Linked DNA regions of Homo sapiens. The protein of the gene in region 2 interacts with the protein of the main gene of each other region in a pairwise test. Each region holds a gene or a part of one and is shown on either strand. Other genes may lie near its edges.

Region 1 (3,751 bases), on a different chromosome or scaffold from region 2:
CCAAGTGAAATATAGTTTGAGACCCATTCATGGATCTCAAATCCAAAAATGTGAAATGCTCAAAATCTAAAACTTTTTGAGAGCTGAAATGACTATCAAAGGAAATACTCATTTAAGCATTCTGGATTTTAGAGTTGGGATGCTCAAGTAATATTTGCTTCAGGTAAAGCAAATATTAACCTGAAAATAATCCAAAATATTTCTGGTCCCAAGCATTTCTTTTTTTCTTTTCTTTTTCTTTTTTTTTTTTTTTCTTTTTGAGATGGAGTCTCACTCTTGTTGCCCAGGCTGGAGTGCAATGGTGCAAGCTCGGCTCACTGCAACCTCCGCCTCCTGGGTTCAAGCAATTCTCCTGCCTCAGCCTCCCAAGTAACTGGGATTACAGGCACCCAGCTGTTAAAAGAAAAAGCATTTGGCTTCTACTGGAATCTGGAGCCACAGTTTGGTGTCAAACAGAGCAGCTGTGCTTTTGTTTCAAATGCTGTTTGCTGAAAACCTCTGGATCAGAAGAGCTGGTCTTCAGCCAGGTCCTTGGCACCAAGAGGATGTGAACAATCCTGAATTCCAGGGCCTACTGATGGAGTCCACTAGTTAGTCCCTTTGACACGGCCCCCTTATGGATCCCAGTAGTCAGCCGGGGTGCAGGTTTTCATAGTGATTCTAAACAAGGCTGCAGTCACTGTTTAGAAGTGATTGGGGGAAGCTGGAACTGTGCTCCTTGTTTCAGGACCTCTAGATTGCACCTAGATTAAACAAGACGGAAGCTCTCAAAAGGCTCTAAGTCTAGGCCTCCTGTGAGGTAGGGTCTGAAAGGACTTAAACCATTTTTTTTTTTTTTTTTTTTTACACACAGGGTAACTTTTTGGAAGAGTACTTTGTAACAATAAAGTGCTGTGCACAGAAAGGAGAAATGCCATTATGGGGATGTGTGTGCCGACCTGGGACCAGCAGGGTGAAAGAGTCTATCATTCATGATGAGAGCTGCCATTTGCGCTAAGCACACACCATGTGCCAGGCACTATGCCAAGAAATTGTTGAATCTTCACAATAACTCTGTGAGAAAAGGGCTGTCATTGGACAGATGAGGACACTGATGCTCCCAGGGGTCCACATCACATGAAGAGGAGGTGACAGGGCTGGGCCTTGGTCCGAAGCTCCAGCCTTCCAAGCCAAGGCCTGTGAGAGGAACCGCTGAGACCTGATGTTAGGCCTGTTTTTCTCATGTGCCCTGGAGAAGGGGACTAACACCATCTTTTGCCAAAGTTTGGTGAGGGATGGCCAAGAGCTCTTTGAAACTTTGCCATGTACAATAGCACTCACAATTTTTTTTAAATTTTTTATACAGTGGTATCGGGGTACAGTGGCTCATCAACACTTTGGGAGGCTGAGGCGTGAGGATTGCTTGAGGCCAGGAGTTTGAGACCAGTCTGGGCGACATAGTAAAATCTCATCTCTATAAAAAAAGAAAAAAAATGAGGCGGGCATGGTGGCAAACATCTGTAGTCCCAGCCACGCAGGAGGCTAAGGTAAGAGGATCACTTGAGCCTGAGAGGTTGTGGCTACAGTGAGCCATGATCACACTACTGCACTCTAGGATGGGTGACAGAGCAGGACAGTTTCAAAAAAAGACAAAAAAAAATTTACACAGTGGAATGCTTTCTTTAAAAACTATCTTATGCATAAGTACAATCTAGAAAACCAGAACTGGGCCACTTATAGTGAAGGTGGAAGCAGAGGTGGCCTGGGACCCCCCAGGATTCCTGGAGCACTGCCTGAAGGCCATTTATCTAGTAGATTGGCACTCACTGTAAGAAGCGCAAGAGGTACCATGATGCTTAAGGCTCTGGCTCTGGGTGTGAAAGAATGAGGTGGAATTGTAGCAGATTCATTCCTGGGTCAATCTGTTTTTGGGGAGGGCTGCAGGATTCCAGGCCTGCCATGTGCAATGGGTGCTGCCCTCTTTCTTCTGGGCACCATCTGCCTCAACCTATCCCCTGGCCAGTGTCACTCACAGGGCAGAAAATTTATCTTCACCATCTCACAATTAGTTTAATCTTAAAAAAAATGGATTATAAAGTTAAAAGCTACAGCAACTCTTTTTTGTGCTCATAAAAGGCATCATCTGTTTTTTTCTGTATCAACAAAAGTAGAATGTTCAAGTTTGGATCTTGGTGTAAGATCAACAATAGATCTGTACCTCTGACTCCAATGCAGGGGCTCGTGGGATGGCTCACAGTGGAATCATCAAACGGACTTCCTTCTCATAGATGTCAGGGATCATTCCCACTGGGGAACTGACCATGTGCACAGTGTTCTTGCCAAACAATTGGAACTCATAGTGGATGAGCTGCTCCCAAAAGCCGCTGTTGGGTCGGATGATGGGCCGGCATGACTTGGTCCACGTGTGGGCGTCCAGCAGGGACATGGCGTGGTACTTCATGAGGTAGGCGAGGCACAGGGCAGCTGAGCGGCTCACACCAGCAGCACAGTGCAGCAAAGTACGGCCCTGCTTCATCTCCACGCTGTGGATATGGTCAGCAATAGGGTCAAAGAAGTCACAGAGACGTGAGTTAGGGGAGTCAGCCACAGGTACCTGCATGTACTGGATATCCTCATACAAGGTGTTCACTACCTCCACTGAGACATTGATGACCATGGTGATCTGGTTGCTAGACAGCATGAGCTTGTTGTTGGCGGCCACACCATTGCTGATATACAGGCTTTTGGTTATCTGCGAGAGGCCGCTGACTGAGGGCTGCCGGAACTGAACTGGGAAGGCACACGAGGGTGCTGTCATCAAGGCGGTGGGTCAGTGGTCAGCAGTCAGCGAAGCACGAAGGCTGCGTCTTTCTGCTAGGCTGTGTCCATGGAAAACTGCAGAGAGGGAGAGGATGTTTAGAGGGCAGGTGCCCAGAGGGCCAATTCCAGGGGATCCCTGGGAAATGGATGGATAGGCTTATAGCATTCCCCAAGGCAGTCCTCTGACCATCACAGCAGAACTACCCAGCAAACTCATTTAAAGTACAGATACCCAGGTCCCTCTCCAAACCCACAGTCAGACTCTCGGGGTGAAGAGCATGAATCTGCATTTTCAGCATGCTTCTCAGGTGGTCTAATGTGCACTGCCCTATAGGACAAATGGCAAGTCCCCAAGTCTGGCACTTGAGGCCTCCCTTGAGGGGTCCCACAGCTCTAGTTGGGCAGATGACTTGTGTCCCTCAGCTGTGCCTTGGCCTGATTCTCCATTTAAGCTCACAGAGCCCTTTTCTTGCTGCTCTTCCAAATTCTCTCCTTCCTTCCAGCCCCTCTGAGTGGGAACCATTTGTACAGTCTTCCTCCTCAGTCTTCTGACTTTATGCCCAAATCATAAGGTCCTGAGCCAGTGGCATGGAACCAGAGCCCACTGTGCTGGCAGTCACTGAGGAGGCTGGTATAAGAGTAGGGAGGGTTCCCATTTTCCCCCTCTAAGAACCATCTCTTTAAAGAGACAGGATATGCCCATGCGAAGCTGATGTCAAATACAAAGTCCTAAATTGTTAGACATGCTCCTGCACCTTGCCTCTGAAGAAGGCCTGGGAAAGGGAGTGGCTGAAAGCTTCCTGGAAGCCAGCATAATGGGCACCACAGCAACCCCAGGGACAAGCACAGAGACAGCAGGGCCTTAGGAAGACCTGCCACACCTGCATCATGCTGCCTGCAGCAGAGCTGTGAAACACACCCCAGGGAGAGGCAGACCCCTTCCCTTCACCTG
Region 2 (3,751 bases):
ATATGACATGATAGAACAAACACTCTGCTAAATTTCAACATGTACAGAATGAGGGACAACCTACTTAAAATGGCCTGTGAGGCCCTTCTTGATCTGACCCCAACTTTAATTCTCTACCTTCATCCTACATTACAGCTTCACTCAGCTTCCTTAAGCCTGCCCTGCTATTTTATACACACCCCCTTTGTATAGGTTGCTCCCTCTATGTCCTTTCTTCCCTTTTCCTTTTCATCTTGGTTTCAAAATCATTTGGCTATGAGCAAGTTATAACTATAACTGGACCTGACTTTTGGCAATATTCACAACTATTTAGGAGTTCTTGCAAAGACAGAAAAATCAACCTACAAGTTGTTTTCAAAATACTACTCATTTTCTTTAGTTGACATTCCACGTTTTTAGACATTTAATTAAATATTTATGTTCAATTTAGTTTCGTTTGTTTGTTTGTTGTTTTTTTTGAGACAATGTCTCGCTCTGTTGCCTAGGCTGGAGGGCAGTGGTATGATCATGGCTCACTGCAGCCTTGACCTCCCAGGCTCCAGCAATCCTCCCACTTCAGCCACCCGAGTAGCTGGGACTACATGCACGTGCCACCATGCCAGGCTAATTTTTGTATTTTTTGTAGAGATGGGGTTTTGCCACGTTGCCCAGGCTGATCTGAAACTCCTGGGCTCAAGCGATTTGTCTGCCTCAGTCTCCCAAAATGCTAGGATTACAGGTGTGAGCCACTGCACCAGACCTTTATGCTCAATTCAGATATTGCTATTTCATTTTGTATCATTGGACCCAATAAAAACTTTTACAGCCCTTGAAAAGCTCAGATTTTGTAAATACCTTTATTTGCTGTAATATCTCTATTAAATCATTTATCACAACATTTTACAATTCATCCGCCTATATTCATTTTTCCCACTAAAATGTGAGCTTAGCAAAGGGAAAAAATTATTTATCCTTATTTATATTCCTAGTTTCCAGGACAGTACATGGCTCAAAGGAAACCCTCAATAAGTCTTTGTTTATTGAAAGGATAGATGAGTGAATGAATGAATGAATGATTGGCACACAGTAACTCAATAAATATCTATTGAATAGAAAATACGACTATGTTATAGGTAATATTCAACAATCATACAATACCTCATCTTAAGTAAGGCCCTGGTTAGAACCACTTTTATGAGTATATCTTTTATGTTTCACACCTAACAGAAGAAACTTTCTTTCAACTTTATTTACATCAAACATTTAATATAAGCTAAACTTTTAAGATGAGAGTGAATATCATTTACAAGATATATAAAATTGATTATCAGATTGGTGCAAAAGTAACTGCAGTTTTTACCACTACTTTTCACCAACCTAATATTAAATTTTTTTTTATTTTTTTTTGAGACGGAGTCTCACTCTGTCATGCAGGCTCGAGTGCAGTGGCATAATCTCGGCTCACTGCAACCTCTGCCTCCCTGGTTTAAGAGATTTTCCTGCCTCAACCTTCCGAGTAGCTGGGATTACAGGCACATGCCACCATGCCCAGCTAACTTTTGTATTTTTAGTAGAGGCAAGGTTTCACCATGTTGGTCAGGCTGGTCTCGGACTCCTGATCTCGTGATCTGCCCACCTTGGCCTCCCAAAGTGCTGGGATTACAGGCATCAGCCAACGTGCCTGGCCCAATGTAATATTATTATTTCGATGTTACTGAGATCCTTTCTACAATGTTCTCTTTTCCTTTCAGCTCCGCTGTGAAGTACCAACATTTTCTTACTGTGACCATAAAACTCCATTCAACAGAAATTACTAAACATTAAATACATGTACTAATGAGAATAGAAAAGAAATAATATCTGTTGTGAGAGATTTAGAGGCTAATTGGGCTAAATCTGGCTGCCCAAAGCTCAAAGACACAATCTGCATGGTAAAGGAGCCTAAACTTAGGGGAAGAACATCAGGAGGAAGAGTTGGCCTGGGCAAATTGAGTTGAATTGTGTTTGCAGAGTAGAGATGAAAGATGCCATTTCTAAATGGATGGAACAGCATGAACAAGAGCCAAGAGGAAAGAATGTGTAGATTGTGGAGATGGGCCTGGTTGAAGCAGACAAGATACAAACAGGGATAAATGGATAAGTGAGGGGAGGGTAGATGGGTAGTTGGCAAAGTGTTTGGGTTTATTCAGTTGGAATTGGCCAGCACAAAGTTTGAGAGACAGGATTATACTGAGGTTTTGTAGAAAGAGACAGCATCTATGAATATTAAGTGGTTCTCCTACATCCTGGGGCAGATTAGATCAGTCTTGACTAGCACAGTGGTTCTCATAGCAACACTTCTCTTTTGATTATACTAGCTTCATTATTTATTTTATTTTATTTTATTTTATTGAGACGGAGTCTCACTCTGTCACCAGGCTGGAGTACAATGGCGTGATCTCAGCTCACTGCAACCTCTGCCTCCTGGGTTTAAGCGATCCTCCTGTCTAAGCCTCCCGAGTAGCTAGGACTACGGGCACACACCACCACACCTTGCTAATTTTTGTATTTTAGTAGAGATGGGGTTTCACCATGTTGGCTAGGATGGTCTTGATCTCTTGACCTCATGATCCACCTGCCTGGGCCTCCCAAAGTGCTGTATTACAGGTGTGAGCCACAGCACCAGGCCCCAAGCTTCATTTATTAAGAGAGTTCTCACTGGCTAAGCATTTCACAGGCATTATCACATTTGATTCTCATCACAACCCTGGAAAATGGGTATTTCATCCATAAAAGATGAGAAAAATGTGGCTTAGAGAAATTAAATAACTTGCTTATGGTTATCCAAGTTGGGCTTTGACTTTGTAATCCATGTTTCCTCCTTCAGTTTGCCTGCTATGTTCGCTGTTAAATTTCTCAGGTCTTCAGTGCTTCATGGATGTGCTCTTAGCAGTAGATTTCAGTGAAGTGATTACCATTTCTGATTTGGACTTCATATTTCTGCTAATACAACATATGACAGCTTATGCAGTACCTTTTTAGCAAGCAGAGCCTATGTTGTCTTCCATGACTTTTGTGTATCCCCAAAACCTAGGTGTCATTCACAAGAACTTTCAACAAACCAGGTCTCTCCCACATTAAATATACATAACTTATTTCTTGAACCCAAACACAGAACCAGACATTTACCTATTTTGAAATGGTATCTTTTTGTTTTGGTTTTCCACCCTTCCAGCCTAGAACAATCTATTTAAATCCTGATTCTGTGAGCTCACCAGTAAGCCATCTACAGAGAATAAGCAGGTGATACAATCACACAGATATCCTTTGGGGAGATAGAGGCTCAGGAGGCAAACTGATAATTTCAGAAGAATTTAGAGCCCACCCACCTAAATTCCCCAGAGAACATCACATAGTCTTTTGAGATGAACTTAGAAGACTCCTTCCCTCCTGGAGAGACGCCTTGGAAGAACTAGACTCTTCCAGGAAGCTCTCCCAGGGCAGGGCTGAAAGGGAAATGCTGAGACCTAACAAACAATAAAGACAATGCTTGGAAGGGAGCATCTGTGAAAAAAGCAAGCTCCTCCCTCTGAGAATAATTCCAAAGGGTGTCTCCGATCCCAGCTTTCAGACCTCCACCCTTGATTACTCAGACTTGACACTAGCCTTCTGAGACCAGCCCTAACAAGGGGGTTTCATCTGGGAGCACTTCCCTGACCTTACAACTGTTTCCTCTGCCACCCCAGACAAGATGTCTGCTATCTCTGAATCCAGTTGTTATTTAAAATGTCAA

What was found.
Region 1: the proteins of TEK (region 2) and DUSP18 interact in a two-hybrid assay, tested with the Homo sapiens proteins (one study listed by BioGRID and IntAct).

What each region holds. Positions count from the first base shown.
Region 1 is NC_000022.11:30,661,207-30,664,957, forward strand, and holds the end of DUSP18 (dual specificity protein phosphatase 18), read right to left. Parts: exon of another isoform or gene 3,749-3,751; intron 2,875-3,748; 5' UTR 2,798-2,874; coding exon 2,231-2,797; 3' UTR 239-2,230; downstream 1-238. UniProt on the Homo sapiens protein: Can dephosphorylate single and diphosphorylated synthetic MAPK peptides, with preference for the phosphotyrosine and diphosphorylated forms over phosphothreonine. In vitro, dephosphorylates p-nitrophenyl phosphate (pNPP).
Region 2 is NC_000009.12:27,112,206-27,115,956, reverse strand, and holds part of TEK (angiopoietin-1 receptor isoform 1 precursor), read right to left. Parts: intron 1-3,751. UniProt on the Homo sapiens protein: Tyrosine-protein kinase that acts as a cell-surface receptor for ANGPT1, ANGPT2 and ANGPT4 and regulates angiogenesis, endothelial cell survival, proliferation, migration, adhesion and cell spreading, reorganization of the actin cytoskeleton, but also maintenance of vascular quiescence.